Homo sapiens: one gene and its partners. The protein of the gene in region 5 interacts with the protein of the main gene of each other region in a biochemical or structural test. Each region holds a gene or a part of one and is shown on either strand. Other genes may lie near its edges. The genes, in order: SLCO1B1, EGLN1, SAPCD1, PLCB2, PTPN3, YWHAB and RPS6KA3.

Region 1 (4,271 bases), on a different chromosome or scaffold from region 5:
AATCTTTATTTATGATTCTTCATGAGTTGTATGGAAAATAAACCTTAAAGGCAAGTATCACAGCTTCATCTTCCATTCTACCCTAAAATTAAGGACCACAATCTAGATCAGCATTGCTCTAAATATGCCATAATATGTGACACTTTTGCACCTGGTATTTCTACAGCCTTGAATACCTTTGTTTCTTTGTCTACCCTTCTATTCATCTTCCAGATTCGTTTTACCTGTCATTCTCATGTTGATGTCTTCTCTGATCTATTCCCGCAACCTCCAAGCAAAGTTGATCATATCCTTTGTCTTTGTGACAACTCAGGACCTTATATATTAAACTTATAACTTTTATCATCTATGTTTATACTAGTGTGAAATTCCCTAAGTACAAAAACTGTGTGTTTTATTTCTAGCTCTTTGAAGCTTAGCATAATGCCTGGAATACAGTAGGCTGCCTTTAGAGCTCACGTGGTACCTAATTATTTATGGATATTAACATCTCTGTTATTCCTATCAAGTTTTCTCTCATCTAGTTGAAATGGATTAGATTTTATTTTTACTACATTTTGAAGAGTCATACATTAGAGCGTGTGTGTGAATATGTGTCCATGAAAGAAAATCTGACAGACTGATCATCTTTGAAGATAATTCAAAAGGATGAATGGTTACACACAATTAATAATTACTTTTTAAAAAGGTGAAACTAGGATATTTCATATCTTGACCAAGATATAACCACTCCTAGGATAATAGCAAGGTGATAACCCACTTAGCCTGGGGTGTATTGAATTATCTTTCTTGCTGGACACTTCCATTTCACTTTTACCCATCACATCTCTTAAAACACATGCTGGGAAATTGACAGAAAGTACTCTGGTAATTTGGGGAAGATAATGGTGCAAATAAAGGGGAATATTTCTCTGTATTTCTAGGAAAAGTGAAAATATTCAGTAGATAAGCAAAATGTTTAATTCAGTGATGTTCTTACAGTTACAGGTATTCTAAAGAAACTAATATCAATTCATCAGAAAATTCAACATCGACCTTATCCACTTGTTTAATTAATCAAATTTTATCACTCAATAGAGCATCACCTGAGATAGTGGGAAAAGGTAAGAATTAATATTGACAGTAAAAAGTCTTCTAAAATGTATACATTTAATTACATCTCTAAAAATTGTTGTGATATTCATTAGCAAAATTTAATTAAGAATGAATAGGAAAAACATTTGACTCTTACAGACATAATTATAGTGTTAATATACACAGTTCGCCCATTAACAACACAGGTTTAAACTACGCGTTTTCACTTCTATGCAAATTTTGTCCATCTGAACTGGATGATAAACCTGCCGGTAAGAATATCTGACATTTTCTATATTTGGATTGAACAGGGCCAACTGCAGAACTTAAGTGTGCATGAATTTGAGAACACACAGGCAGCCCTGTAACAAATTCCTTAATATACCAAGGGATGACTGTATTATATGTAAAAGCATTTAGAAGTAGATCAGAAAAGAGAATATTTTCAATAGGAAATTGACAAAGAATATATGCATTAAAGTAAAACAGAAGGAAATGGTATAAATATGTAAATAATATAACTTTGCTTTCATTGCAAAAGGCAAACTATTATATCATTTAAAGACTTTTTGCCTATTATAACACAAATTATAAATTATAATTGCAAATTGTACTGCTAAAGATTTTTTTAACCTATTAAATAGAAAAAGACTAAAAATACATAGAGACGAGGTAGAGGCAAAAAAGGATTTCACATTGTATATATTGCTGGAAGTGTATACGTTTGTAAATCTTTCTGGAGATTCATTATCAATATATGTTAAGAACAAAAATATACTTACCTACTTAGTCTGAAATTCTGCTATTATTGATTAATCTTAAGGAAATAACCAGGAAACTGCAAAAGGACTTATTTACAGTTATAGTCATGATAAACCTAATAGAATAAAACAACAAAAAAGAAATTAAAACATAAGATACTGAATAAACACATTTGGAAACTTATTCAGCACATTACTGTCCAGTCATTAAAGTTTTGATATTAAAGAAATCTTAACAACATGGAACAATTGTTATAATATGGTGTTAACTGTGTATACCATTTAACAATATGAACTAGATTTTTAAATATATAATGGATATAATGAATATAATGTATATGTTTTGTGCAAATCTAGAAGATATATAAAAAAGCTTGAGGTGATCTTCTGTGTGTAATGTGATTACAGATAATTTTTACTTGTTTGTGCTTTTCTGTATGATATGGCTTGACTGTGTCCCCACTCAAATATCACCTTGATTGTAATAATCTCCACATGCCAAGAGTGGGGCCAGGTAGAGATAATTGAATTTTGGGGGCGGTTTCCCCCATACTGTTCTCGTGGTAATGAAGAAGTCTCACAAGATCTGATGATTTTATAAATGAGAGTTCCCCTGCAAAAGCTCTCTTGCCTGCCACCATGTAAGACATGGCTTTGCTCTTCCTTCATCTTCCGCCATGATTGTGAGGCCCCCCAGCCATGAGGAACTATGAGTCCATTAGACCCTTTTCCTTTATAAATTACCCAGTCTCAGGTATGTATTTATTAGCAGCATAAGAATGGACTAATACACCATATTGTCAAAGTTTGCAAAGTGAATATAAATTACTTGTACTTGTAAATTAAAAAAAAATAAGTAGAATAATTAAGAGTTTACAAGTAGTTAAATTTGTAATAGAAATGCTAAAATTAATGTTTAAAATGAAACACTCTCTTATCTACATAGGTTGTTTAAAGGAATCTGGGTCATACATGTGGATATATGTGTTCATGGGTAATATGCTTCGTGGAATAGGGGAGACTCCCATAGTACCATTGGGGCTTTCTTACATTGATGATTTCGCTAAAGAAGGACATTCTTCTTTGTATTTAGGTAATGTACACAAAATATTAAATTGTATGATCACTTTCCCTTTGTCTACTTTTGAAATAGTAGAGTTACTAAACTTATTATTTTACCTATTAGAACATATATTTGGGTATATGTATTGTATCATATTTCTTTTAAAAACATGGTGAATAAGAACCATGCATTCTTGGCATCTAGTAAAATTGCTTTATAATATTTTCAGGTATATTGAATGCAATAGCAATGATTGGTCCAATCATTGGCTTTACCCTGGGATCTCTGTTTTCTAAAATGTACGTGGATATTGGATATGTAGATCTAAGTAAGTACAACCAGAACAAGGTACCATGATAACGTCTTTCTAAGCACACATGCGAAAAACATTTTTTCAAATAACTGAATTCACTCTTTCAATAGTCCTTTGCTTAATATAATTAGAAAGTTACAAGTAGGAAATAAATGTATTACTAATCAGAATAAATATAAAATCCAGCTCCTATTTATACTATCTTTATAACTAAGTGTAAAATGAGAGAATGTAAACAAATTTATTTTCATGAGCTTGGTCCAAAATAACCAAATGTAAAATGTCTCCCTCCCAAACTGACTGTCCAGTCAAGTAAATTTTATTTTTCAGTTGATGGTGGCTTGGATGTTGATGTGTACAACTTAAAGTTTGCTTTGCTAAAGTCTTCTTGTGGCTGCTGCATTGATTTATGGCTGGAGTCATTTGAGAGACTTCACTGTGTATTTTATGGTCATTTTCCCTGGTCCTAGCAGAGGGCTTGGCGTATGGCAATGTTCAGTAAGTACTTGTTGAACAAAGGAATAAAGCAGAGGACACATAAATAAAATCTATGATTTTCTTCTTCATTCTCAGAGCATACTTTCCTTCTTATCTCATAGATGAAAGAGATGCCATGTTATAAAAACTGTCTCAACTTCAGGCCCTTTTCCCTAAAAATATTCTTGCACCATATCTATCTTTATCTTCTTTTTCTTTTTTGCAGCTCAGTGGAAAATATATACATCTGTATCCAATGTTGATAGATCTAGCTGGAGCTTAGATTCTCCCTTCCCGCTTCTTTATCTCCATCTTCTCTTTTATTCAGCAAACACACCCAAGTATTTCCCATCTTTATATGTAGATACAGTTTTTTATACCCCCACACAACTTTCCAGCTGAATCCTTTTTTTATTCCTCTTTAGAACCAAGCACCTAGGAAAATATCAGCTAAATTAGCTAAGATATCTCACCTTCTCACCTCCCATCCACTTCTAAATCCAGTATAATCTGCTTCTGTTATTAGTGAAACACAATCAATTTCTACCTACTTTACTATAGATTTGTAAATGGGTATATTTCT
Region 2 (4,271 bases), on a different chromosome or scaffold from region 5:
ATTTTAATAAAGGTCACCTTTCTAAAAAAGTTAGATTTTAGATAAGTGCTCTAACATCTGAAAATAAATGAATCCACTTTTTAAGATATATCAGTACTTTTTTATATGGTTTTGAGGTATAACTGATATACAAAAATGCATATCTTTAACATTTACAATTTGATGAGTTTGGATATATACGCACACCCTCATGACACACCACAACCAAGGTAATAAACATATCCATCACCTCTCAAAGTTCCGTTTCCCTTCCCCTAACCTCGTGTGTGCGTGTGTGTGTGTGTGTGTGTGTGTGTATGTGTGTGTGTTTAGAACACTGAACATGGAGTCTACCCTCTTAAATTTTTAAGTGCACAACACTACGTTGTTAACTACAGGTATCATGTTGTATAACATAGAGTAGTATTTGTTTCATTTTACAAAAATCCACTCCTAATACCTGAGACTGAAACAAATTTAAGAGGAAAATTTTTAACTGTGTCTGTGACAGTCTTATCAGAAGTATGAAACTTAATGCTTTTGAGAAAAAGACACCTGTAAGAAAAAAATAAATGCTCAATTAAGTTGCATACCTTGGCATCCCAGTCTTTATTAAGATAATATATACATGTCACACATCTTCCATCTCCATTTGGATTATCAACATGACGTACATAACCCGTTCCATTGCCCGGATAACAAGCAACCATGGCCTGTAATAATGATAATAATGATTATTAAAGTCCATGTATAAATAAAAAGAGAGAACAGCTAATAAATCAGATCTCTGATTTTTGGCTACTGATTTACACTTAGATTCTTCTAATAAAAATAATATTTTGTAGATAAGATAAGGCTATTCTACATTAACATTTATAGGGAACACAAGATAGGTTGATGAACAAGGACTGGTGAATTCTGCTTCACAGTGATAACTCCAAAGATCAGAAAAATTTCTTGGTCCTACTTTGACAATCTTTATAAATACAGATAATCAAGATCAAGTACGTTTTTGTCCTGCTCCATGGGAGATTTCAATCTTCCTTGAGCTCACCTCAGAACACCTACTTTACCATCTGATAGGTGAACCAACCCAGTCAACACCCCATCTGACACTGTCTCTGAATGGTACCAATTTTTTTTTTTTTTGAGACAGGGTCTGGCTCTGTTGCTCAGGTTCGAGTGCAGTGATGCAATCATGGCTCACTGCGGCCTCAACCTCCTGGGCTCAGGTGATTCTCCCACCTCAGCCTCCTAAGTAGCTAGGACTATAAGCACGTGTCACCAGGCTGGTTAATTTTTGTATTTTTTGTAGATATGGTGTCTTACTATGTTGTAATAGGGATAATTTAGGAGGTCAACTAAACTCCAAACATTAACTCATTTAGTGTCAGTGATTTTTTTTTAAAAAAAGGACTAAACAAATTAGCTTATGTTTACCCTCTTTCAATCAGAAAGAAAATTATTTGCTCAGATTATAACAAGATATGGTTCAGAAGACTGTTGGATGTTAAGCTTAAAGGTAGAAAAGAGGCCCAAAATAAAAAGCACAAAATAACTTCCATATTCTAGGTGTACATGATAATTAACTGAAATTGGTAATGGTATTTTTTAAAAAATTCTCAGGAATTATGAAGAAAACAAACAAAGACGTTCAAGGTTATGAGCTATTCTTGTTTTTGTTTGTTTTTTTACAGAGTCTTGCTCTGTTGACCAGGCTAGAGTGCAGTGGCACGATCTCAGCTCACTGCCTCCACCTTCCAGGTTCAAGCGATTCTCCTGCCTCGGCCTCCCGAGTAGCTGGGATTACAGGTGCATGCTGCCAGGCCCGGCTAATTTTTGTATTTTTAGTAGATACAGGGTTTCACCATGTTGGCCAAGCTGGTCTTAAACTCCTGACCTCAAGTGATCCTCCTGCCTCAGCCTCCCAAAGTGCTGGAATTACAGGCTTGAGCCACCACGCCACCCGGTTTGTTATGAGCTATTCTTGAAGTCCTTTATTTCTTCATATAATAAAGTCAATGAATTAGTATAAAGTTATCAAACAGTAACCGAATTGTTCTACTATCATATTAAAAGAAAAATGCTAATTTTTAAAACTCACTTCCCATCCCTAAGAAACTAAGAGGCATCTTAAACCTAAATCCTTATTTAAAAATCCTGTTTCCCTAGACACTCTGAATTCACTGCTCTTTATAAGCAGCAGAATTTTTGGAGAACATTATATATGTCTCTGTTTTTCCTGATTCCAGACAGACTTAACAAGTTCCTTCTTTCAGCACTGGAGGTTGGTAACAACCAGGAGTGTGGCATGGGCTTAGTGGGTTTAAGTGCTCAATAAATGATGAGCCCAAATGATTTTCTTGTCACTAGCTACCCAGGAAAGAAGTTTACCTTGAATAGTAACTGTAAGAGGGTACTAATTTAACAATGCAATTACTCCATTTGTGGTTAACTGAAGTAATTATGATGAATTACACAATATATTGTTATTCATGGGAAAGAAGGGGGAAACCTGAACTCTACATCTCAAAAAAGTTAATTTGGGCCTTTCCAACTATCTGGTAACTTCAGCATCTCTTGTGTAAAGAAGGAAGGGGAAAATATTTGTCAGTCACTCACCCCATCACATCCCATATATCCATTTAACAAATACCTCTTGAACATCGACTATGTATATGAAAGGCACTGGGGCTAAAACGATGAACCAAAGAGAAAAGGTCCCTTGCACTCATTTACATAGTCCCTCCTTATAAGAAGTTTTGCTTTCTGTGATTTCAGTTACCTTTGGTCAACTTAGTCCAAAAAATTTAATAGAAAATTCCAGAAATAAACAGTTTATAAATTGCACACCATTCTGAGTAGTGCACTGAAATACCTTGCAGTCCTGCCCCGTTTTGCCTGGGATGAATCATCCCTTTGTCCAGCATATCCACACTGTAGATGCTATCCACCCATTAGTCATTTAGTAGCCTTCTAGGTCATCAGAGCAATCGTCGTGGTACTTGTGTTCAAGGAAACCTTATTTTATTTAATAACAGCTCCAAAGTGCAAGAGTAGCGATGCTGGCATACTGTTATAATTGTCCTATTTTACTGTTGTTGTTAATCTCTTACTTTATAAATTAAGCTTTATTATAGGTATGTATGTACAGGAAAAAATATAGTATATTAGGATTTGGTACTATCCACAGTTTCAGGCATCCACTTGGTCTCGGAAGGTATTGCCCTCAGATAAGAGGGGACTATTGTACTATGAAATCTGGTCTAACAGCATAATTAGCCAATAAACAGATATATAATGTAATGTTAGGTAGTGAAAAGTTGTATTTTCTTAAGATATGAAAAAAATTAGGTATATAGAGAAAGATGACATGATATTCTTGAACAGTGGTTGACATTTGGGTTTAGACTTAAATGAAGGGAGCGGCAAGTTGGGCAAATCTCTGAAGAGAGAGCAATGTGGCAGAGGGAAAATGAGTGCTCAAAGGCTGAACAAGGCAGGAAAGAGCAGCAGGCCAGTGTGGCTGGAACACAGCGAGCACGGGCCAATGTGATCAGAGAGGAACCAGGTAACCTAGAGCTGCAGGGCTTGGTAAGCCACAGGAAGGCCTTTGGATATTGTGCTAAGAAGGGCCAGGAAGCCAACAGAGAATGTATCTGACTAATGTTTTGAGAATATCAGTTTCAAGTCTGTATGAATAAAAACAACCACAACAACCTCAATATCTCTTACCACCTAACATTTATGGGACATTTACTGTTTGCCATGTCCTATCTAAGTAATTTGTGCATAACAAGTTGTCTGACACAACCATGTGAGGTAAACAGTATCACTGTTCTCATCCTCATTCCTCTAAACTGAGGTTTAGAAAGGCTAATTAGTATTCGCAAAGTCACATGACAGGGAATCTGGTTCCAGAACCCATGGAATTAACCACTGTACTAGACTGCAGGAAGCAAAGAGTGAAAAGAGAAGACTAAGTTAGCTATTAAAGTTTCCGGGCAAGAAACCAAAGAGGCTGAGCCCAGAGTAGCAAAGTGGGGTGTATTCTGAAGGCAGAAAACCAACATGATTTGCTAATGAGTGGAGAGTAAGAAGAGTCAAGAATGACTACGGGGTTTTCAGCCTAGGTAAGTAAATGAATGGAGTCACTGTACATGAAAATGGAAACACTAGGTGAAAGAGCAGTTTTAATTACAAGCATCGGGTAGGAGAGGAGTTTATCGATAACTGTCAAAATGAGCCAGACATCCCAGAATAGAACAAAACTGAGGGCACCAGGATTATCC
Region 3 (4,884 bases), on a different chromosome or scaffold from region 5:
GGCACAGTTGGAGGGGTGCTGCTTCTGCTAGGCCTGGCCTCCTGGTGACACAACGGGCTCTAAAGGGATGGGTCTCCAGCACTATTTTCAACCTGCCCCATTGGTAAGAAGACCTGGGACACATTTGTCACATAGGTCTTAGGACCTTACCTCTCCTAGCTGGGATGAAGGTTTTCTCTTTTTTGTTGTTGTTGTTTTTTTTTTGAGATGTAGTTTTGCTCATTGCCCAGGCTGGAGTGCAGCGGCGCAATCTCGGCTCGCTGCAACCTCTGCCTCCTAGGTTCAAGCGATTCTCCTGCCTCAGCCTCCCAAGTAGCTGGGATCACAGGTGCCCGCCACCACGCCCGGCTAATTTTTTGTATTTTTAGTAGAGACAGGGTTTCACTATGTTGGCCAGGCTGGTCTCAAACTCCTGACCTCAGGTGATCTGCCTGCCTCGGCCTCCCAAAGTGCTGGGATTACAGGCGTGAGCCACCGTGCCCAGCCAATGAAGGTTTTCTTTCTCCATCACATCCCTTTCCTTTCTTAGAAACTTCGAGACTGGGGCTGGGTGCAGTGGCTCACGCCTGTAATCCCAGCACTCTGGGAGGCTGAGGCAGGAGGATCACTTGAGCCCAGGAGGTTGAGGCTGCAGTGAGTTGTGGTCGAACCACTGCACTACAGCCTGAGCGACAGTGAGACCCTATCTCAGAAACAAAACAAAACAAAACACCCTGCAAGACTGGGATAGAGGGCAATGGATATTCCCACAATGCACTTTTCCTAACCCTATGAGAAACAAACCAAAGACATTTTTGGAGAAAGCTGCTTTCTGGAGCAGTTTCAGTTTTATTTTTGTATTTAAGGCTGAAGGACAGTTTCAATAAACATGCTTCTTCCCAGAGGGATTTCAAAGAAAGATCGTTTTTGCATGTCATATAGGGGAGAATGAGGACATGAGACACCAAGAAGATGAAGTTTTCAGGAGCAGAGGAGAAACTTTACACCAACATGTCTGAACTTCATTGACTCACTACCTGGAGCCATTTTTTAGCTGTTGAGTTAAGAAACAGAAAAAGGAGCCTGGGGCTTCTGACTCTTTCACCAGGCTTAGGGGAGTGAGAGGAGGGTTTAGACACGGGTAGGGCCTCTTGGCCCCTTGGTGCAGCCCCGCTGAGCCATCTCCTCCTTTGGCTGGGTGACTCCTTTCTGCTGCCTTGACAACTCCTGGAGGAGAAACAGATGGGGCCTCTGGGCTCCTCCCAGCCCTGTAGGGTGGGGCTCCTGCCCTCCTTCTTGAAGTTTACCTGTTGCTGCCACAAGTTCTGCTCCCTTCGTCTTTCCTTTGAATCCTGGGTGGTGCAGGAACTAGCCTTGTTCAGTGGACTTGGGGAGAACTGGAGGGGAAATTCGCTGTGTTTTCTGTTAAGCCAGCACTGACCCCAACAACTCCCCTCTCTAGTCCAACTTCCCAAAAGTCTAAACTGAAAACAATAAACTCACCTTCTCATGAATCAGATTCTGCAAACAGATGTTCACCTTTTGAATCTGGGCTAACGGGGGGCGACCAGGCTCTGAGTGTAAATCTGTTAGAAAATTCTAGAGGAGGAGTTGGAGGCTGACAACATGGTGAAAACCTGAGGTCGTCTGCCACTCTATTCCTGTCACCACAGGCCATCCCTCTCATCTGGATCCCCTCGTCCCAGTACCCTCCCAGGCAGGTGGGAAAATCCAGTACTCTCCACCTCCATCTCTTTAGCACATCAGTTCCTCCATCTCCCTCAAATAGCACAATACCCCCTTTCACTACTCTTCATGGAGCCTCCCTGTCCATCCCTGCCCCATTGGAATAATCCAGGCCACACCCTCATCTCCATGGAGTGATCCAAATCCCTCTGAATGGAATGCAGACCAGCTTCCTCCAGCCCCAACAATGAACACCAACTTAACACTTGGTGGCATCCTGTCATTACGATGCTGCCTCCAACTCATGATCCCTGACCATTAACTCTCCCCTCTCCAGAGTGGTCTCAGGCTGTGTCTACACATTCCCTGTTCCTCCCTCCCTGGTCCTCCCCCCATTCACACAGAGGGGCAGCCCCCATACCTCACCAAGGGCCCCTAGATGCAGCTGCTGTCGCTGTGCCTCCCTCAGATGGTCTTCAAACCAGGCCTGGCCATGCTGTAGCAGCTCCAGACCCTGCCACAGGGCATCCTGTTCTCTCTCCAGAGCCTGCATCCTGCGTAGCTGGGAAAGGCAATCACAGAGGCTGACTCTCACGCCACAGTAGGGCTCTGGGTTATGGCCCTTTCTCTCCACCCCTAGTTGGGTTCACTGTGTGGTCACTGAGTGTGAACCCAGACTGGCCACTGAGGACCTGGAGGGCAAGGGGAGGCAGGCGGGAACACTGTGGGCCCTCAAGTTGAATGGAAATATAAAGGGCAGATCTATTGAGAGAGTTCCCCTGGGACCTCTTGTTGGGCTGATACTCACCCAAAGGAAGAAGCTCTGGGCCCCTGGGTCTTGGCGGCTTGTCCCCAGCGGCAGCAGCAGGACTGTGTAGGGAGCCTGCACCAAGGGCACCCCGCCAGAGCCCTGGCTCCCCATGGCTCTGAGGTGGGAAGGGTGGAGCCACTCCCACTGGTGCAGCCCGGGCTGGTCCCTCCCCTCCACCCCTGCCTTGCACCCATCCTGCCTCTGTCAGCCTCTCAGGCCCCTTCCTGCTGTGTCTGTCTGAGGCTGGGGTGTTCCTACTTGAGAAGAGAGACCATCTCCCTTGGACCCCTCTGTCTTCCCTCTAATCTGTTTTGTAGGGCCTCTCTGAAGGGGTTCGTTCTCATGAAGTATCCTGGGGTAGAATCCGGGAGTCTTCCTACAGCAACAACACTGTATTTTTACTGAGGCAGGGCAGGTTCCCCTGTGGACTCCTGCTCTGTGTTTTGGATCTTTCCTAGTCTCTTGTTTTGAGACTAAAGAAACAATATCTTTCTTCAAAATAAACTTTATTCCTAATATGAAACAAAATTTCTAGAGAAACTAAAAACTCTGCGTCTGAGGGAGATAAGGAAACAAAGAGGGCATGGCAGCCCACCGGAGTCTCAGGAGGCTGGGGAGGACACTGGAAGGACTCTCAGAGGATGCTGGTGGCAGCAGGCAGCACTTCCTGGCTCATGAAAACGTTCAAGTCCAGGTTAGGATCTTCCAAATCCAGTTTCATAAACTTATCCACTAATGTCTGGCAACTGAAGAAGAGAGAAAATCGCAAGATTTATGGCAGAATGGACAACCAAATCCCTGGGCAGAGGGGAGAGGCTGTGGCACAGAAAACCTGGGATCTTGAAGATTTAGGGATTTCAGAAAGAAATGGTGGGTTTCTGAAGGGCAAAGTGCTGGAGGAAGGCTGAGTCCCTGAAAAGGGGAGAAGAGTTGCAGGAGAAGATGCAGAGAGGGTAAAGACACTGGGGCCATATACGCACTTTTCCATTTGGTTCTTCTTTAGCAAATCCTTGACAGGCTTGATGGGTTTTCCACTGCGGATCAAGTCTGAGACCTAGGAACAAGCAAGAAGGTGGGAGGAGTAAGGGGAGTGGGGAAGAGAAGGGGAAATAAGGGTCAGAAATCCTGTGGACCTAGACCCAGGCCCAGTAGGACTAGGAATGAAAGGGAGCTCTGATGTGGAGGTGGTTGCACATTTGGATCTCATCACCTCCTTGCCACGAGCCACAAGCTTGTCAGGAAGCCCAGCCTGGGCAGCTGTGTGGGAGGCATGGCTGGCCTTCGCAACACCTTCGCAAACCTGATAGAAGAAGACAAGATCGTTGCCATCCTCACAGGTCTCCATGGTCTTAAAAGAGAATAAAAGACAGTGTATCATCAATCACCTCCTTCCTGTCCTGAAACCCTTGGCCAATCCTGTGGGGAGGGAGAAAAGGGAAGGGATGTGGTCTCTGTGCTGAGGGAGCCCTTGTTCTGATAGAGGAGCCAATCCCCACCTCTGGGAAATGCCCAGCCTGGGGGTCCCCGAGGAGCTAGATTGGTCTCCTCACCAAATACTGCACCAGGGGCCCTTGTGGCAGCAGTTGTAGCTGAACAAGGCTCAGAAAGTTGGTGGCCACAAAGATGTGGGGGCATGTGGGTCCACGTGCCAGCCAGTGTCGGAGCACAGCGGCCAGAAGCGCGAGCCCATCCACCTGCAAAGAGGGCAGAGGTTAGCATTCGGAGCCATGGGGACCCCATATGCCCCTCTGCACTTGCACTGCCTTTCCCTGTCTCGTGTTCTATTTCTTTTCTGCCCACACAGCCCTATTCCATTCCAGAGGCCCAGCCTCACTGTCATGCTCCTTCATCCTCCTCCATTTTCCCCTCCTTAGTTTCTCCCCTCATCAGTTTCTCCCCTCACCGTGTTGGTTCCCTTTCCAAATTCATCAATAAGGACCAGCGACTGTGCAGTGGCATTGTTCACTGCTTTCGCCACCTGCTGGGTATAAGGTGGACAAGGGAAAGTTAGTATTGGAAGCCCGTAACGCACTGACCACAGTTGGCCTGTGAATAAAGCTGTATACATGCCCTCCCTACTGCACTGCAAGTTCTTGAATGGTGAGGTGCACGCTTTGTTCATCCTCTTTGCCAACAGTGACTCACATGAAACAAGGGTTCAAGAAATGTTTATGGTATTGATTCTTCTTATCTCTGACCTTAGTGCTCCCCACTTTTAGTATAAAGGGCATGCAGCAGAGGGCATGCTTTCCTGTTATGAGCATTTTCAGGGGTTCCTTTCCCATTATCCCCTTCCTCAATCCCACCTCCCTTTGTTCCCTTTGACCTGGTTGAGGTCGATCATGAAGGTGGAGAGGCCAAGGGAGATGGATTCGCAGCTATGAATTCGTGTGAAGATGGCGTCTACT
Region 4 (4,271 bases), on a different chromosome or scaffold from region 5:
GTGGGGGCGCTGGGGCTGTGGTTGATGGACTGTGTTCAGGGCAGGCAGCAGAAACGGCATGCATTCCCAGTCTAGTGTTGGGAATGGGAGCTGAGCGTGAATGTTTTCAGCCTGGAGGAGCGAGATAAGGTCGGCAGTGGCAGGCGGCAGTCTGCAGGGATCTGGAAGTCTGCAGCGTGTCGAGGGAGAGGAACTGAACCAAAGGCGGAAGCTGCCAAGATGCAGACTTCTGCTCTGTACAGAAAAGCATTTTTCCCTGTCTTTTTAGTTAAATAATTAATTTTTAATTACAAGTTGTAAGCAGGGTCACCCCATGAAGCAACTTGTGTGAATTACAAAAAGGAGCCCTCTGGGCTGATATGGCCCTGAGCTAGGCTTCAAGCCTGGCCAATGGAGCGAATCTCAGCCCCTGTCCCTGCTTGGCCAGTGCTCTTGTGTGGGTCCCAGCCTATACCCCATGGAGTATTTTCTCCTGGTAAGAATTTGGAACGTTATAAATAAATAAAACCACGACCCCCATTGATCACCTGCCCACATGAATCCCAGGAGGAGCATTTACCCCACAGCCACAGCTCTGCAGAGTTGGTGACTCCTTGATGCAGTCAGTCACAGGGATCCAAATGTGGCGTTGGGGAGAGGTAGGAATGGGCTCCTGCGGCTCCCCTACAGCCAGCAACACTTACCTGTGGTCAGCACACATCCACCCTCCCTCTCTCCTGCTGCCTGAGCTCCTCCCTTGGCTAAGTCCTCCTTATCTATCTGCTTTCCTTGTGTCTCAGTAGAGGCTACTGACCCAACTTTGCTTGGAGCTGAAGCTCCAGAGACAGGGAGGGGTTTGGGGAGATCCAGTTAGACTCTCCTGCTCAGACCCTCTGCTCCAAACTAAGACTGATGTTGGCCTTCCAGTGTGATTCTGAAAGACATTTAATGTTTTTTTTGGGGGGGGAAGGAATGCAAAGGTGCAGAATCCCTGAATACCACAAATGTACTTTTCATTTCTATTTCTATAGATTTGCCTATTCTGGTGGTAAAGTAAATGAAATCATAAATATATGCTTTTCGATGTCAGGCTGTATTCATTTCTCATAATGTTTTCAAGGTTTATCCATGTTGTAGCATGCATGAGTACTTCATTCCTTTTTACCACCTAATAATATTCCATTGTATGGATATACCACATTTTGTTCATCTGTTTATCAGTTGGTAGATGTTTGGGTTTTTTGTACTTTTTGGTTATGAATATTCATGTACATGATTTTGTGTGAACATGTGTAAATTCTCTTGGGTATATACCCAGGGGTGGAATTGTTGGGTCATGTGGTCACTCTATATTTAACAATTTGAGAAACCGCCAAACTGTTTTCTAAAGTGAGAGCATTGTGTAGGGATTTATTTATTTATTTTTGAGACAGAGTCTCACTCTGTTGCCCGGGCTGGAGTGCAGTGGCGTGATCTCAGTTCACTGCAACCTCTGCCTCCCAGGTTCAAGCAATTCTCCTGCCTCAGCCTCCCAAGTAGCTGGGATTACAAGCATGTGCCACCATGCTGGGCTAATTTTTGTATTTTTAGTAGAGATGGGGTTTCACCATGTTGGCCAGGCTGGTCTCGAACTCCTGACCTCAGGTGATCCACCCTCCTCGGCCTCCCAAAGTGCTGTGTGGGGTTTTAGGTTAGTCACATCCCGCTGACACTTGTGATTGTCTGTTTTTTGTTTTAGCCATCCTAGTGGGAGTGGTATCTCATTGTGGTTTTGATTTGCATGTCTCTAACTACAAATTATATTGAGCACCTTTTCTGTGTTTATTAGTCACTTATATATCTTCTTTGGAGAAATACCTGTCCAAATCCATTGTCCATCTTTCAACTGGGTTGTCTTTTTGTTGACTTATCTCTTATCGGATATCTGATTTGCAAATATTTTATCCCATTCTGTGGGTTACCTTTTCACTTTCTTGATGGTGTCCTTTGAAGCACAAAAGTTTTTAATTTTGATGACGTTTAATTTATCTTTCTTTGTCCCGGTGCTTTTGGTGTCTCCAAATATTATTGTTGAATTGTCCTCCTTTCAATTCTATCAGTTTTTGTTTTATATATTATGGGGTTCTGTTGTTAGGTGCATATATGTTTATATTCAAATTGCTTCTTTTTGAATATTTGTCCTCCACTTAAAAAAGATAGCCTACTAGCCTGGCAAGCAGCATCATTTCTTCTGACCTCTTTTCTACCTCATTCTGGTTATTCTTAGTTCCGATCCTGCCCCAGCCAATGGAATAGCCACTGTACAAAATCAGGGTCAGAGCAAACCAGCTAAGCATGCTCTCTGCTCAGCAACCAGGGCCTTGAGAAGTGGATGCTTGGGTGTCCTTGAAGTTCTTCTGTCTGCCTTGAGCCCGCCTTCTGACCAGGTCCCCTTGACCAGGGCTGGGCCGAGTTTGTGGTTCTTAGCTCTGAGAAGGTGAGGGCAGGGGCAATAAGGTTACTATGCCCCTAGAATGACGCCATCAATCCTGAGGACTTCCCAGAACCTGTCTACAAGAGTTTCCTCATGAGCCTCTGTCCTCGGCCAGAAATAGATGAGATCTTCACTTCTTAGTGAGTTTCTTGGGTTGTGCTGGTCATGGGAAAAGGGTGGTGGCTAACAATCCCCTCCTCCCACCTGCCATGCCGGGAGTCAGGAGGCTTCACTGGACAAGGGGGTTGTCTAAGCCTCCAGGCCCAAGGGATATGGACCTGTGCTCTTCTCTCTGGCTTGAAGCCATGCTAAGGCCAAACCCTACATGACGAAGGAGCACCTGACCAAATTCATCAACCAGAAACAGCGGGACTCCCGGCTTAACTCCCTGCTGTTCCCGCCAGCACGGCCTGACCAGGTGCAGGGCCTCATCGACAAGTATGAGCCCAGTGGCATCAATGCACAGAGGGGTGAGGACTAAGGGAACCCCTTGTCCCCTGTGGTCCTGTCCTGCCTTGGCAGCGGGGTTGTAGCCTGACAGCTATCTCCTGTCCCCCAGGCCAGCTGTCACCTGAAGGCATGGTCTGGTTTCTCTGTGGGCCAGAGAACAGCGTGCTGGCCCAGGACAAGCTGCTGCTCCACCACGACATGACGCAGCCACTCAATCATTACTTCATCAACTCGTCCCACAACACCTACCTGACAGGTGGGCCCTGATAACATTGGTGCCAACCTCTGCTTTCACAGGGGTTCCCTGCATCCTCCACAGGGGTTGCCCACATGCTGCTGGCCCTGAGAATAACACAGACCATGATGGAGTGGCGGTAGGGGGAGAGCTGGGCTGCCTTTGGGTGATGCCCTCACCTCTTCCCCATCCTCTGGCTCAGCCGGCCAGTTCTCAGGCCTCTCCTCGGCTGAGATGTACCGCCAGGTGCTGCTCTCTGGCTGCCGTTGCGTGGAGCTAGACTGCTGGAAGGGGAAACCCCCTGACGAGGAGCCCATTATCACCCATGGCTTCACCATGACCACAGACATCTTCTTCAAAGTGAGACCCTGGGCACAGAGGCTGGTGGCCGTGGCAGTAGGGAAGGGCTCTGGGCCAGAAGCTTTGAGGGGTTGGAGGGCTGAAGCTAGAGAAGATGAATGGCTGGAAGGCCTCAGACCATTGGGGACCAGCAGGGATTGGGGGCCAATGGCGGCCATGCAGTTATATGTGTGTATTGAAACTAGGCAGGGGGGAAAAGTGCTATCACGAGACAGGCAGTCGGAACGCTGACCTTCTGTTCATGGAGTCTCCTTCTCCTCCAGGAAGCAATTGAGGCTATTGCAGAAAGCGCCTTTAAGACCTCCCCCTATCCCATCATCCTGTCGTTTGAGAACCATGTGGACTCGTGCGTATCCAGGCCCATTCAGCCACATTCTCACCCAGCCCCCAGTCTCCTGTCTGCAACTGTCCTCCCCACAACTGCCCCAGCCTCTAACCATTGCCTACAGCTTCTCCCACGTCTCAGTATAATCACCCTAAGGCCTCATGTTCTCCTGCTCGAGTCCCAGCCTCCCTGACCTCCTGGCCCCTGATCTGGGTCATCAAGGGCACAAAAGGATGCATAATAGGGTTGGTGCTGAGCGGCTGAACCCCATCCCCGCTTTTGCTCCCCGCAGACCCCGCCAGCAGGCTAAGATGGCTGAGTATTGCCGGACGATCTTTGGGGATATGCTGCTCACAGAGCCCCTGGAAAAGTTCCCAGTGAGTGGGCTTCGCTGTGGGACATTTGAGCCTTGGGCCTGGGAACCTGGGGCAGGGTGAGAACCAGGTTAG
Region 5 (4,271 bases):
CAGGATCCCTTACCATATCATCAGTCATGTCTCTGACCCCTCGATTCATCTTTTATCATACAGAAGATACTCTGGTAGTTTTAAGCATTCTCATTCAAGTCTCAGAGACCTGGTTAGGGAGGCAAGGTCAGAGACAAATCTTATCCCTGGAAAAAGCTGGGGTTCCGAGGTGGTAATTGGCTTCAGAGAATTGAGAGCAACGCTTTGTTGGCTGTGAACTGGAAGGTTTCACACACAGTGGGGTTTGTTGCTGCCAAACCCCACCCCATTCCCCACCTTGCAGATAAGGAAACTGAGCTGGCAAAGGTAGAGTGGGGCCAGGAGCAAGAGGGACCAATTTTGACCTTCTGAACTACAGGTCCAGGCACACAAGAGACATTTTCTAGGACAGGCATAACCTACCAGAAGGGCTCAGCTTTGGGGATGGGAGGGAGTGAGAAGACATGGCACCCTGCCTTTCCCCAACCCTCCGGGTTTGTGGTGGTTGAGAAAAGACCAGCAATTTGTGGTCCCTACATCTTTTCCCAGGAGAGCTCACCTTCCAGCATTGCGGTCCTGGAAAGCAGGGACAATGCCTCTTTATCTTTTCCCAAGATCTGTTGTAGAAGCTGGAATGCTGAAGGCACCCAGCACATACCCTGGTCTGGAAGGGCTGGTGGGGGTGCAGTAGCCTACCCAGCATCAGCTCTTCATTCCAACTCTAATAGAGACAGGAGGAGACCAGGTCAGTGTCCACACTGCTCTTGGCTGGGTCCAGGTGACCTCAGAGCCTGATCTTATAGATGTCTTCTTTCCTCTGGCCGAGAAGGACCTGAGAAGTGCTTGGTAAGCCCCTGGCTGAAAACTGATTTGGTAATGGGTTCTAAGACCCAGAAATGTTGCATCTCCAGAGCTTCTGCTTGTGTGTGCACCTGAAGCTTCCCACTGCCCCCAGGTTAACTTGTTATTCCAAGACCAGGTGTGAGCACAGATTTAACAGCAAATTGAGACATTTATTGAGTCTCTACCATGTATTAGGCCATAGGGCTACAGAGGTGAACGCTGAACCCCTGCCTTGGAAGGATTCATGGTGGATTTGGAAAGACAGTTTGTATATGTGTATGTGCGTCCCCATCCATCTGTCCATGGTCCTGTAAGTACTTTAAAAGGATAAGCTAGGTGCAAGAGACACCAGAGGATGCAGCCATTCATTCCGATGGGCATCAGGAGACACTGTGGAGCGTAGTTCTAACCATGGGGAGAAGTTAGTTCTAACTTCAAGGCATAATTTGAATTAAGCCTCAAACTTAGGAACAAGATGGCATTTAGGGCAGGCAAAACAGCAGGGGCAAAGGCATGAAGAGACTTTGTGGATCATAGGCGTGGTGATTCTTCTCCAAGTCCAACCTGGTCTTTTTTGTTTTTTGAGACAAGGTCTCACTCTGTCATCAGGCTGGAGTGCAGTGGCCCGATCATGGCTCAAGCAGTCCTCCTTGTACCTCGCACCTGGGACTACAGGCATGTGCCACCACACCCAGCTAATTTTTTATTTTTTGTGGAGACAAAGTCTTACTATGTTGCCCAAGCTGGTCTCGAACTCCTGGGCTCAAACAGTCCTCCTGCCTTGGCCTCCCAAAGTGTGGAGATATAGGCGTGAGCCACCGCACCCAGCCAAATCCAGCCTCTTGGTGTTCACTAATGCAGAACCCACCTGCTCTGGTTCGGGTCTGCTTTATCTCTGTACATGGGCCAGGCCTCACCTAGCCCAGGGCTAAGTGCCTATTCTCCTTGTTTTCACCTGGATGGGAGCAATGCCACTGTGTTGTCTTTGAGGCAGGAGTAACTTCTGCAGGGATGCCTCTGGTTTTAGTTATCAGCACTAATCTGTACTTATTGGTTGCCACACACTGTTGTGAGTGCTCTCCAAATAGTAACTTAATTCATTTAATCTTCACAGCAACCCTGTCGCCAGGCTGCCTCCCAGGTACAAGTAGGTGGGGGCTGAACTCCTCTGCCCAGTGTATGTCCCTCTGTGGGTGATGCTCTGATTGTGGCCCGGCCTCCCCCTGGCTGCCTTTACATAGATGTGCCGGGAAACAGCCCAGTCTGAATTGCAGTGGAGCACTGACCCCATTTCCTTTAGGGGACCGGCAGGACTGTGCTGACTGCGTTTTCTGAACCAAAGAACGGGATCTGTAGTGTGAAAAAAGAATGTGTGTGCCACTGCTTTGTGCAAGAGGAGGCCTGAGAAGTGTTTGGATACTGAGAGAGTGGAATTTTTGAAACATTTTGATGGTTTATATGGAAAGTTAGGACAGAGGATTTGAAATTGGAATAGTCCTGGAAAATTGAGGTCCCATGATTTACTGTTAGGATACACAAGCTTTTAGTAAATGTTTAAGCAGTGTAGAGTGAAGTGAATTTTTTTTACTGAGCCCCCATAGGGAACAAACAGTGCATTTTAGCCTCAAAATCTGACTGATTCCTTCCAGCCCCATTTTACAGAGGGGGTGAGAAAACTGAGGCTCAGAGAGATGAAGTAACCACCAAAGAGCACAGTGTTTGTAAGCAGTGCAGCCGAGATTTGTCTTTTTGGTTTTTGTTTGTTTGTTTGTTTTTTAAATATAGAGAAAGGGTCTCGCCATGTTGCCAGGCTGGTCTTGAATTCCTCGGCTCAACTGATCTTCCTGCCTCAGCCTCTCAAAGTGCTGGAATCACAGGCGTGAACCACTGTGCCTGGCTGCAGCCAACATTTGAACCCAAGTCTGTGCCTAGACAAATCATCTGTTGTCAAAGTCAAATAAAATATAAAAACAGATGTTTCTCTAAATTTAAAACATTTTGCTTGGGAAGTAAGAATAATAATTTGGGAAATCTATACAGACTAGGTGGTCTTTGGTTTGGAAAACAAAGAGAATGTTGGGAGTTTTATTAGAATGAGAAATATTATGTATTGTTTTGAAAAAAGTCCATCGGCACTAGAGAAGCTCTTCGGGAGCTGGCAAGCTCTGATTGTTGCATGATGGTAGCAGATAAAACTAGTCTTAGGGTCACAGCAATTTGTTTCAGTAGTTATTAAATAAAACTGGTTTTAGGTTATAACAGGCAGTTTTAGCAGCCACGCTTGCAGAGAATTACATTTTTGGAGCAATGTTATGTGCCCTGAGTATTTTTCCCCTGGCCTCTCAACTCTGATTTAGTTGGGCATTACAATAATGACCCAAATTGTATAATCAACTTCCACCCTGTAAAATGAGGATCATAATTGCACCTATTCCCTTTAAGTTGACTGTTGTCAATGAGCTAATGTGGAAAACTAAGGCAAAACTTGGCATAGAAAAGGGGTCCCTCACTTTGTGGTCAGACCCCTGACCCTCCAGACAAGTGCTTTGATCTGTGTTCAGTGCTGAGAGTCGCTGTGGGTGAGTGAAGGTCCCTCCTCAGCCAGGACCACAGGTCCCGGTTCTCAGGACTGAAGGGATATTCCAAGAGGGAGCATCCAGGACTGTGCAGGGGCCATGGCTGCCTGAATGCTGTGCTGATGAGGGTCCCCTGGCGTAGGAGTGGGGTTGGAGACCTGGCCCATGCATGTCACCTCCCTCAGCCACATCAGCTCAAGGGCTAGCCCAGAGGTTCTCGGTGAGGGAGGCAGCAACCAGCTCCATCAGCTGTTTTTTGACCGCCAGCCACCATTGGGCCTGGGGAGGGGAGGTTGGCCTCTGAGCTCAGTCTTCCCCACTGGCTCCCCCGAGTCCCCTCCCCTGCTCTGGTTATCAAATGCATTCATGGTTCTTGTAGAAAATAAAGTGTCAGGGAACACAAGAAAAATTATGCATGATGCTTCTCTGAAAGCAGCTGGTCCACTGTCAGCACTGCCATGATCTGCACATGCCCTCTCCTGCTTCCAGTGGATTCTCTACTCCACAGACGGGGGAGTCTTCCATACACTCCTATTTTTCTCAAAATGAAGACAAAGCTGATCTCTCAGCATCTCCTGCAGGCCCTATGTTCATGCTCTTTGAGCCCTCACCTCACCGTGCTCCTTCCTGCTGCAGGGACTGCAAGAGCCTGGGACCTTCTCCCCCTCCCCACTGATTACTTCATCCTGTGGGTCTCAGCTCCATGATTGCAGAGCCTTTGCTCACCTTCCTGACTTGAGTTAAATTGTTGCTATAAATGTTCATGCCACCAGATCTCTCTCCATTATAGCACTTTTCCTAGTGGCAATTTTGCAGTTAATTAATGTAATTATTTGTATTAGTACCTGTCTCCCGGCTACACTGTAAGCTGTG
Region 6 (4,271 bases), on a different chromosome or scaffold from region 5:
ACGTGCACTGTGCCCAGCTAATTTTTTGTTTTTTTAGTAGAGACGGGGTTTCACCGTGTTAGCCAGGATGGTCTCGATCTCCTGACCTCGTGATTCACCTGCCTCGGCCTCCCAAAGTGCTGGGATTACAGGCATGAGCCACTGCGCCCAGCAGAAAATGGTTAATTTAAAAATAGCAAAGAGGCCAAGTGCGGTGGCTCACACCTGTAATTCCAGCACTTTGGGAGGCCGAGGCAGGCAGATCACCTGAGGTCAGGCGTTCAAGACCAGCCTGAGCAATGTAGTGAAACCCCACCTCTACTAAAAATACAAAATCAGCCGAGTGTGGTGGTGCATGCCAGCAGTCCCAGCTACTCGGGTGGCTGAGGAGAATCGCTTGAACCCAGGAGGCAGAGGTTGCAGTGAGCCGAGGTTGCGTCACTGAACTCCAGCCTGGGTGACAGAATGAGACTCCGTCTCCAAACAAATAATCATTTTCAGAGCCTTAAATTGTGATACCATGTATGTAGTAATGAAAGAATTTGTTTTGAAAATACTGGCATTGGCTAGGTGCAGTGGGTCACGCCTGTAAGTCCCAGCACTTTGGGAGGCCAAGGCGGGCAGATCACCTGAGTTTAGGAGTTCAAGACCAGCCTGGCCAAAAATGGCAAAATCCCATCTCTACTAAAAATACAAAAGTTAGCTGTGCATGGTGGCACGTGCCTGTAATCCCAGCTACCTGGGAGGCTAAGGCAGGAGAATCACTTGAACCCTGGAGGTGGAGGTTGCAGTGAACCGAGATCCCACCACTGTACTTCAGCCTGGGTGACAGAGTGAGACTCTGTCTCAAACAAACAGACAAAGCACACAAAAAAACCTGACATTACTACTACTGTTTAAAGTAGCATTTCATGTTTTTATAGCTCAGGATATTAGTGTATTTTTATACTGTGTGGCACAGATTGATATATCAATATTTAAACCAACAGTACATAAAATTAACTCTTCTTGTTTAGTAAATAACTTTTCAATTATTTTATCCAAAAATTACTTATTAAAATTACCGCACTCTGTAAATGGTGATTATTGCAGTGGGGAACTGACTGTGGTGAGTTGATAAGAGATATTCACTGATTGGCATATGGATTTGATAAATTGATAAACTGAAGTCACTAGGATTTTTGTCTATTTCAGAAAAACTTTAAATGAACTCAGTTATGGTTCAGATGAATTCAGTTATGGTTTCAAGTTATGTTGCTGTACATCTTGTTATACACCCCTTTCTCTTGCAACCTATACCATATACAAAATTAGTGCCTGATATTTTTATATAATGCTTTATACTTTTTAAGGTGCCTTCACATGTATCAGGTCTTTTGTTCCTCATAACAGGCCCACTAAAAGAGTTGGTAGTGTTCTTTCTTTTTTTTTTTAGAGACAGGGGTCTCAGTTGGTTGCCCAGGCTGGAATGTAATGGCACAGTCACGGCTCACTGCATCCTGGAACTCTGGGCTCAAGTGATCCTCCCACCTCAGCCTCCTGAGTAGCTGGGACTACAGGTGCACACCACCACACCCAGCCAATTTTTTCTTCTTTTGTAGAGATGAAGTCTTACTATGTTAGAGACTGATTTGCCAGGATAATCTTGAACTCTTGGGATCCTAGGCGTGAGTCACCACATCCAGCCCTGGGTAGTGTTCTTATTGCCCAGTAGAGACCGAAGCTCTCAGGTTAAGTGATTTAACCAAGGTCATGCCACTTGTAAGTAAGTAGCAGAGCTAGTGCTAGATAGAGCCCAAGTCTGACTGCCCTTAGTTTATGTTCTTCCTGTGCAGTGTGTCCTAGTAACAAAGTTAGCAGATTACAGAAGATGTGATATAATCTTTCCCATCCTTCAGTTATCTACTGCTTGATGGGTGCAGCCAAATAGATCATTTAAAATCATATCTTTTGCTTCAGGATTGGTTGAAACAAACATCATACTTACTCTTTCCTGTACTATGGAAAAAACAGGTTTAGTCAAAACCAGAGTTGCTTACAGGACAGTGAAGAGAGGACTTCCTGTATTACAGGATACAGTTGGATTAAGGTCATTAAAACAAACCAGACAATTACTGAGAGAAGTCAAGGACATATATATAGTAAGCATAAACTTTTTTTTTGAGATGGAGTCTCACTCTGTTGCCCACGCTGGAGTCCAGTGGCGTGATCTCGGCCCACTGCAACCTCTGCCTTTTGGTTTCAAGCGATCCTCCTGCCTCAGCCTCCCCAGTAGCTGGGATTACAAATGCCTGCCACCACGCCTGGCTAATTTTTGTATTTTTAGTAGAGATGGGGTTTCACTGTGTTGGTCAGGCTGGTCTCGAACTCCTGACCTCGTGAATTGCCCTCCTCGGCCTCCCAGAGTGCTGGGATTACAGGTGTGAGCCACTGCACCCGGCTAGTAAGCATAAACTTCTAAAGAAATAGTTATTAAGCAGTCTGTATGTGCCAGGCAGGTGAATTAGGCTAATGGAAGAAAACAAAAGCTCTAGAGCCAGATAGATGTGAGCTGGAGTTCTGGCTCTCCACCATCTATTTGCATGTTGCTCTGGGCATATCACTTGCCTTCCCTGACCCTCCATTTCTTCACCCATAAGAAGGGGAAAGTTGTTGTTATGAACATACCTACTCTGGGACTGTTGGGAAGATTACTGGACCAAAATAATATAAAGGCCTTAGCAAAGTACTTAACCCTAGAGGTGTTTGATATATCATCAATATTGTTGATGGCATTTGGAATGAGATGTTTCACATTTAGTATGCTGCTTTCCAGATGGGTTGGAAGAAGATTCACACACGTTTCCTAGGCCCCGAAACCTGACATTTGCTCTTTCTTTTTCTCTTGCTCTTGTTCTAGGGAATGACAATGGATAAAAGTGAGCTGGTACAGAAAGCCAAACTCGCTGAGCAGGCTGAGCGATATGATGATATGGCTGCAGCCATGAAGGCAGTCACAGAACAGGGGCATGAACTCTCCAACGAAGAGAGAAATCTGCTCTCTGTTGCCTACAAGAATGTGGTAGGCGCCCGCCGCTCTTCCTGGCGTGTCATCTCCAGCATTGAGCAGAAAACAGAGAGGAATGAGAAGAAGCAGCAGATGGGCAAAGAGTACCGTGAGAAGATAGAGGCAGAACTGCAGGACATCTGCAATGATGTTCTGGTAAGAGGCCAGTGCTTCTGTTTTGAACAGTGGTTTCTAAATAGTATTAATTTAATGTATAAATGCAGACTCTCAAAACAGCTTATGAGAGAGAGGTGTCTGAATATACTGGAAAGCTGCCAGGTATTTACAACTAATTTTTAAGCATATGATATAATTTGTGTCACCTATTGCCTGATCAGAGGTTGTACATCACTTCTGAGATACTTTCCTCTCCTATCAAAAAGACCTGTGAAAAACAGTGACATTTTTTCAGCCTCCCTCCATCTTTTAAAATTGAGGCCAGATAGACAGGATTTTAATAGATACAGCTACAGATAGGCTATTGTGTATATTAGTCAGAGTAGTGATGTCATCGCCAGTAGGGGAGGGAGATGAAAAAGCTGAGCTGCCTTTCAGCCTCTCCCCAGTCATGCCTTCACACTGTAAAGTCCTGCTTTGGTCTGAAAGTTAGGCACATCCATCAAGTTCGGCATGCATTCCAGAGCCAAATTCAAAGTGTTTTGGGCATTCTCCTCTCCTGTATTTTACATAAACCCTTAGTCAGATGATTGATTCCCTCTGGCCGCCACTTGGGATTGAATGGGAGGGGTACGTACTCCAAAACAAATCATAATCATATTGTCTTTCCCGCACATCCTGAGCCATTGGGAACTTTCTTTTTCTTCCAGGTGAAATCAGGTAAAAATGAACTCAGCGAGGGCTGCTTTGAAGGGAAAAGGAATTCACACTTGGGGACCTACCACCTTCCCTGCTGGCTGCCTTTCTAAATTACTGCCCATGACTCCTTTCTTTTGAAAACCAGTATAAAGCTTGTCAGCCATCAGGCAGCACCCCTTATCCCTAACCTATTAGGAGTTACACACTGTCTGTCTACAAAGAATATTAAAACGACTGCCGCCCCCTGCATCTTCTCACTTTGGTTGATTAAATCCCCTTATAACTAAGCTTTGCATTGAGCTTCTCTTTTTATTAGACTCATGGCGTAAGAGTGTCATGACTAAATTTGTTGCCTGTTGGTAATTTGGGGGTTTGTTAATGGTGCACTAATTCCTGAATGTTAGGTACATCTGGTATTCAGATGAAGTAT
Region 7 (3,500 bases), on a different chromosome or scaffold from region 5:
CCTTTAGTGCATTTTATAATAGGGAAGTATGTTACTCAGCATGCATTGTTGATGCCCTACATATAAATGAATAAGAATAAAAATACATCTTTATAGTACTTATTATTCTACAAACAAGTGATTTTGAAAGTGTTTACAATGAAGTGTACAGCAAGAAATATGACTTAAAAAAGCTTATGTTACAAACAAAAATTGAATTTGCACAACAGAAAAAGCAGAGCTACTTGATATGGGGCCTACATCTTTGTCTGTGATTCAGCCTTATTCCAGTCCCCAGTCGGCTATAGGTTTTCAAGTACCTTTGCAAATGAGAAGTTTGAAACCTATGGTATAGAAGGAAAGGATTTAGGAGGATTCAGAATTAGAATATCTGAATTCTTGTCTCAGGTACACCACTTACAGGCTATGTAACTTTGAGCCTGTATTTTCTCAGAGGGTAATGGTGAAGATTAAATAAAAATAATGTATTTGCAAGCAATACCTGTTATCGCCATTTTGGACTTTCAGTAGCCACTCCCTCCTTTCTTCACCCTGAAGTCATAGCCTTACACAACTTATGCTAAAGAAGCTCGTCATGGGTTAGGGACTAATAACACACAGTAGATGATGAACAGCAACTTACTGATTCCATAAACAGGCTGAGGAAAGTTGTGCTGCCCTTGGCTATACTGATATGAGACATCCATGCCTATGAGCTTTGTATATGTTAAAACTTGAATTTTGTAGGATATACAAGTTTGTGGTTTCTATGTTAGGTACAGAATTTGTAATTTAAAAACTTGCCATACATTCATGTGCTTGCATAGTAAATGGCACAGACTATTTCAACATGAGCTCTGCTTAAAAACCAGTGTTTTAATTGTTTTTCTACAAAATGGAAAACAGGATAACTGACTCATGAAAAAACTTTAGAGCAAAAGCAACTTAATCATCAAGCAAATCCAAGTACAAATGATATCCTAAAAAGAATCCAATGCTTCAAAAGATATATCGAGTTCCCTTTGATTAGAAAGATGACTTAAGATTTGAGTTCATTTTTATTTCTTGTATCTTTTCTAAGGCAAAGGTTGACAAACTATGGCCAGTGAGCCAAATCTGATTCATTGCCTGTGTGTGTAAATAAAGTTTTATTGGTGCACAGCCATGCCCACTTGTTTATGTATTGTCTGTGGTTGTTTTGTGCTACATAGCAGAGTTGAGTAGTTGTGACACAGCCCATATAGCCCACAAAGCCTCAAGTATTATCTGACCCTTCACAGAGAAAGTCTGCCGACTCCTGTTCTAAGGCATCAAAGAACCAGAAGACCTCAATTCATCATAGCTGACCTGAAGGAGGCAGAGGGTGAAACAAACTCGGCATGAAAAACATTTTGAGGCACAGGAGAGGATATAGACAACATCGTCATGTTTATCTCAACTCTTTTAAAATTCTACTTTCTTTTTTTTTTTTTTTTTTCTGAGACAGAGTCTAGCTCTGTCGCCCAGGCTGGAGTACAGTGGCGGATCTCGGCTCACTGCAAACTCTGCCTCCCGGGTTCAAGTGATTCTCTTGCCTCGGCCTCCTAAGTAGCTGGGATTACAGGCATGCGCCACCACGCCCAGCTAATTTTTGTATTTTTAGTAGAGACGGGGTTTCACTGTGTTGGACAGGCTGGTCTCGAACTCCTGACCTTGTGATCTGCCCGCCTCGGCCTCCCAAAGTGCTGGGATTACAAGCATGAGCCACCGCACCTGGCCTAAAACTCTACTTTCAAGTCACATAGGTATCTAGGATTTTGGTTCTTGCAACCTTTTCGATGACATATGAAAAAAATTCCTAAGAGTAAAGTTAATGATATAAAATGTATTTTATTTTATTTTTTGAGACAGAGTTTCAACTCTGTCACCCAGGCTGGAGTGCAGTGGTGCGATCTCCGCTCACTGCAACCTCTGCCTCAGAATCAAGTGATTCTTGTGCCTCAGCCTCCTGAGTACCTGGAATTACAGGCACGTGCCACTATGCCCAACTCATTTTTGTATTTTTAGTAGAGATAGGGGTTTCACCATGTTGGCCAGGCTGGTCTTGAACTTCTGACCTCAAGTGATCCAACTGCCTTGGCCTCCCAAAGTGCTGGGATTACGGGTGTGAGCCACTATGCCCAGTCTAAAATGTATTTTAAATTGCTCACTTGAAGTCAGTAGAAAAAGATCTATTCACAGAATGAACTATATCTTACAACATTCCAAATCTAAAATTATTTAGACATCCACTCACCTGAACAATTGAATGTACACCAACTGTCTGCATAGCTTGGCTTTCATCATCTGAGGTAATAGCAACAAAACTAAACCCCCGAAAAAGCTGATGTGCATTAGCACTAGGTGGAATGCCAGGTGAATCTGAAAAGAGTAAGAAGTGACAAAGAAGATTCATTTGAAAGGAAATTAAGGGAAAAACTGTTGACACTATGACCTTTTTCACTTATTCTGGAATTCTATTTCTCAGGTACACAGTATATACCTCTTGCTTTCCAGGATACCTGTGAGGCACTGTATCAGATCTGTTCTGATTGTGTATTGCCATTACAACACCAACATCCTAGTCCCTCGGAGCCTAGAAAATAGCTAATTCATTTGAAGACTATAATACATCGATGAATTATAGGGTTAATGGTATTCAAAATTAATGCTGTCCCATGGAATTTCCTGAAATGATGGAAATTTTCTTTAACTTTACAGTCTGATAGCCACTAGCTACATGCAGCTTTTCGACATTTGAAACGTGCCTAGCGTGACTGAGAAACTACACTTTAAATTTTAATTAATTTAAATTTAATTAGCCACATGTGGCTACTGGCTACCATATTAGAAACTGCAGCCCTCAATAATAACCTAGTTGGGGTGGAACAGGGGAGATACAAGGTTGATCTACAGCAAATTTAGGAGATGTGAAGATAGCTTAGAGAGTTATCCAGGAAAAGATTTTCTTTTTTTCTTTTTGAGACAGAGTGTCGCTCTGTCACCCAGGCTGGAGTGCAGTGGTGCAATTTTGATGCACTGCAACCTCCACCTCCCAGGTTCAAGCGATTCTCGTGCCTCAGCCACCCAAGTAGCTGGGATTACAGGCACATGCCACCAAACCTGGCTAATTTTGGTATTTTTAGTAGAGACAGCGTTTCACTATGTTGGCCAAGCTGGTCTCCAACTCCTGGCCTCAAGCGATCTGCTCGCCTCAGCCTCCCAAAGTGCTGGGATTACAAGTGTGAGCCACCGCGCCCAGAGTCTGGAAAAGATTTTCTGATGAAACAAGAAAAAAACATATTTGTTGTCTTATATTTGGATTTTCACATTTTCTCCTTACCTTTGGGAGTTTTTGCAGTAAACTCAGGATCAAAATAGAATGTATCTTCAGGCCTGCCCGTTGCAGGTTTAAATGGCGGATGAATTTCTCTTCTATACAGTTTCTGGAGGGGAAAAAAAAAAGAGACTTAGACATATTTTAATTATAAAGAAATATTTCA

Evidence for each region.
Region 1: the proteins of PTPN3 (region 5) and SLCO1B1 interact in a test that uses a peptide from one of them, tested with the Homo sapiens proteins (one large-scale study listed by IntAct).
Region 2: the proteins of PTPN3 (region 5) and EGLN1 interact in a test that uses a peptide from one of them, tested with the Homo sapiens proteins (one large-scale study listed by IntAct).
Region 3: the proteins of PTPN3 (region 5) and SAPCD1 interact in a test that uses a peptide from one of them, tested with the Homo sapiens proteins (one large-scale study listed by IntAct).
Region 4: the proteins of PTPN3 (region 5) and PLCB2 interact in a test that uses a peptide from one of them, tested with the Homo sapiens proteins (one large-scale study listed by IntAct).
Region 6: the proteins of PTPN3 (region 5) and YWHAB form a complex in vitro, tested with the Homo sapiens proteins (one study listed by BioGRID).
Region 7: the proteins of PTPN3 (region 5) and RPS6KA3 interact in a test that uses a peptide from one of them, tested with the Homo sapiens proteins (one large-scale study listed by IntAct).

Annotation. Positions count from the first base shown.
Region 1 is NC_000012.12:21,175,795-21,180,065, forward strand, and holds part of SLCO1B1 (solute carrier organic anion transporter family member 1B1), read left to right. Parts: intron 1-981; coding exon 982-1,103; intron 1,104-2,781; coding exon 2,782-2,928; intron 2,929-3,127; coding exon 3,128-3,226; intron 3,227-4,271. UniProt on the Homo sapiens protein: Mediates the Na(+)-independent uptake of organic anions.
Region 2 is NC_000001.11:231,373,408-231,377,678, forward strand, and holds part of EGLN1 (egl nine homolog 1), read right to left. Parts: intron 693-4,271; coding exon 573-692; intron 1-572. UniProt on the Homo sapiens protein: Cellular oxygen sensor that catalyzes, under normoxic conditions, the post-translational formation of 4-hydroxyproline in hypoxia-inducible factor (HIF) alpha proteins.
Region 3 is NC_000006.12:31,760,758-31,765,641, reverse strand, and holds SAPCD1 (suppressor APC domain-containing protein 1), read right to left. Parts: upstream 2,987-4,884; 5' UTR 2,588-2,986; coding exon 2,474-2,587; intron 2,228-2,473; coding exon 2,087-2,227; intron 1,579-2,086; coding exon 1,483-1,578; exon of another isoform or gene 1,377-1,482; coding exon 1,287-1,376; exon of another isoform or gene 1,207-1,286; coding exon 1,111-1,206; 3' UTR 792-1,110; downstream 1-791. Other genes in the region: VWA7 (von Willebrand factor A domain-containing protein 7 precursor), read left to right, coding at 1-48; MSH5 (mutS protein homolog 5), read right to left, coding at 3,111-3,222, 3,457-3,530, 3,687-3,824, 4,027-4,170, 4,380-4,457, 4,803-4,884.
Region 4 is NC_000015.10:40,297,449-40,301,719, reverse strand, and holds part of PLCB2 (1-phosphatidylinositol 4,5-bisphosphate phosphodiesterase beta-2), read left to right. Parts: intron 1-110; coding exon of another isoform or gene 111-128; exon of another isoform or gene 129-1,053; intron 1,054-2,245; coding exon of another isoform or gene 2,246-2,311; exon of another isoform or gene 2,312-2,474; intron 2,475-2,491; coding exon 2,492-2,592; intron 2,593-2,755; coding exon 2,756-2,922; intron 2,923-3,011; coding exon 3,012-3,158; intron 3,159-3,339; coding exon 3,340-3,497; intron 3,498-3,760; coding exon 3,761-3,843; intron 3,844-4,114; coding exon 4,115-4,199; intron 4,200-4,271. UniProt on the Homo sapiens protein: The production of the second messenger molecules diacylglycerol (DAG) and inositol 1,4,5-trisphosphate (IP3) is mediated by activated phosphatidylinositol-specific phospholipase C enzymes.
Region 5 is NC_000009.12:109,491,571-109,495,841, reverse strand, and holds part of PTPN3 (tyrosine-protein phosphatase non-receptor type 3), read left to right. Parts: intron 1-4,271.
Region 6 is NC_000020.11:44,898,653-44,902,923, forward strand, and holds part of YWHAB (14-3-3 protein beta/alpha), read left to right. Parts: intron 1-2,878; 5' UTR 2,879-2,881; coding exon 2,882-3,181; intron 3,182-4,245; coding exon of another isoform or gene 4,246-4,266; exon of another isoform or gene 4,267-4,271. UniProt on the Homo sapiens protein: Adapter protein implicated in the regulation of a large spectrum of both general and specialized signaling pathways. Binds to a large number of partners, usually by recognition of a phosphoserine or phosphothreonine motif.
Region 7 is NC_000023.11:20,172,910-20,176,409, forward strand, and holds part of RPS6KA3 (ribosomal protein S6 kinase alpha-3), read right to left. Parts: intron 3,444-3,500; coding exon 3,341-3,443; intron 2,380-3,340; coding exon 2,255-2,379; intron 1-2,254. UniProt on the Homo sapiens protein: Serine/threonine-protein kinase that acts downstream of ERK (MAPK1/ERK2 and MAPK3/ERK1) signaling and mediates mitogenic and stress-induced activation of the transcription factors CREB1, ETV1/ER81 and NR4A1/NUR77, regulates translation through RPS6 and EIF4B phosphorylation, and mediates cellular proliferation, survival, and differentiation by modulating mTOR signaling and repressing pro-apoptotic function of BAD and DAPK1.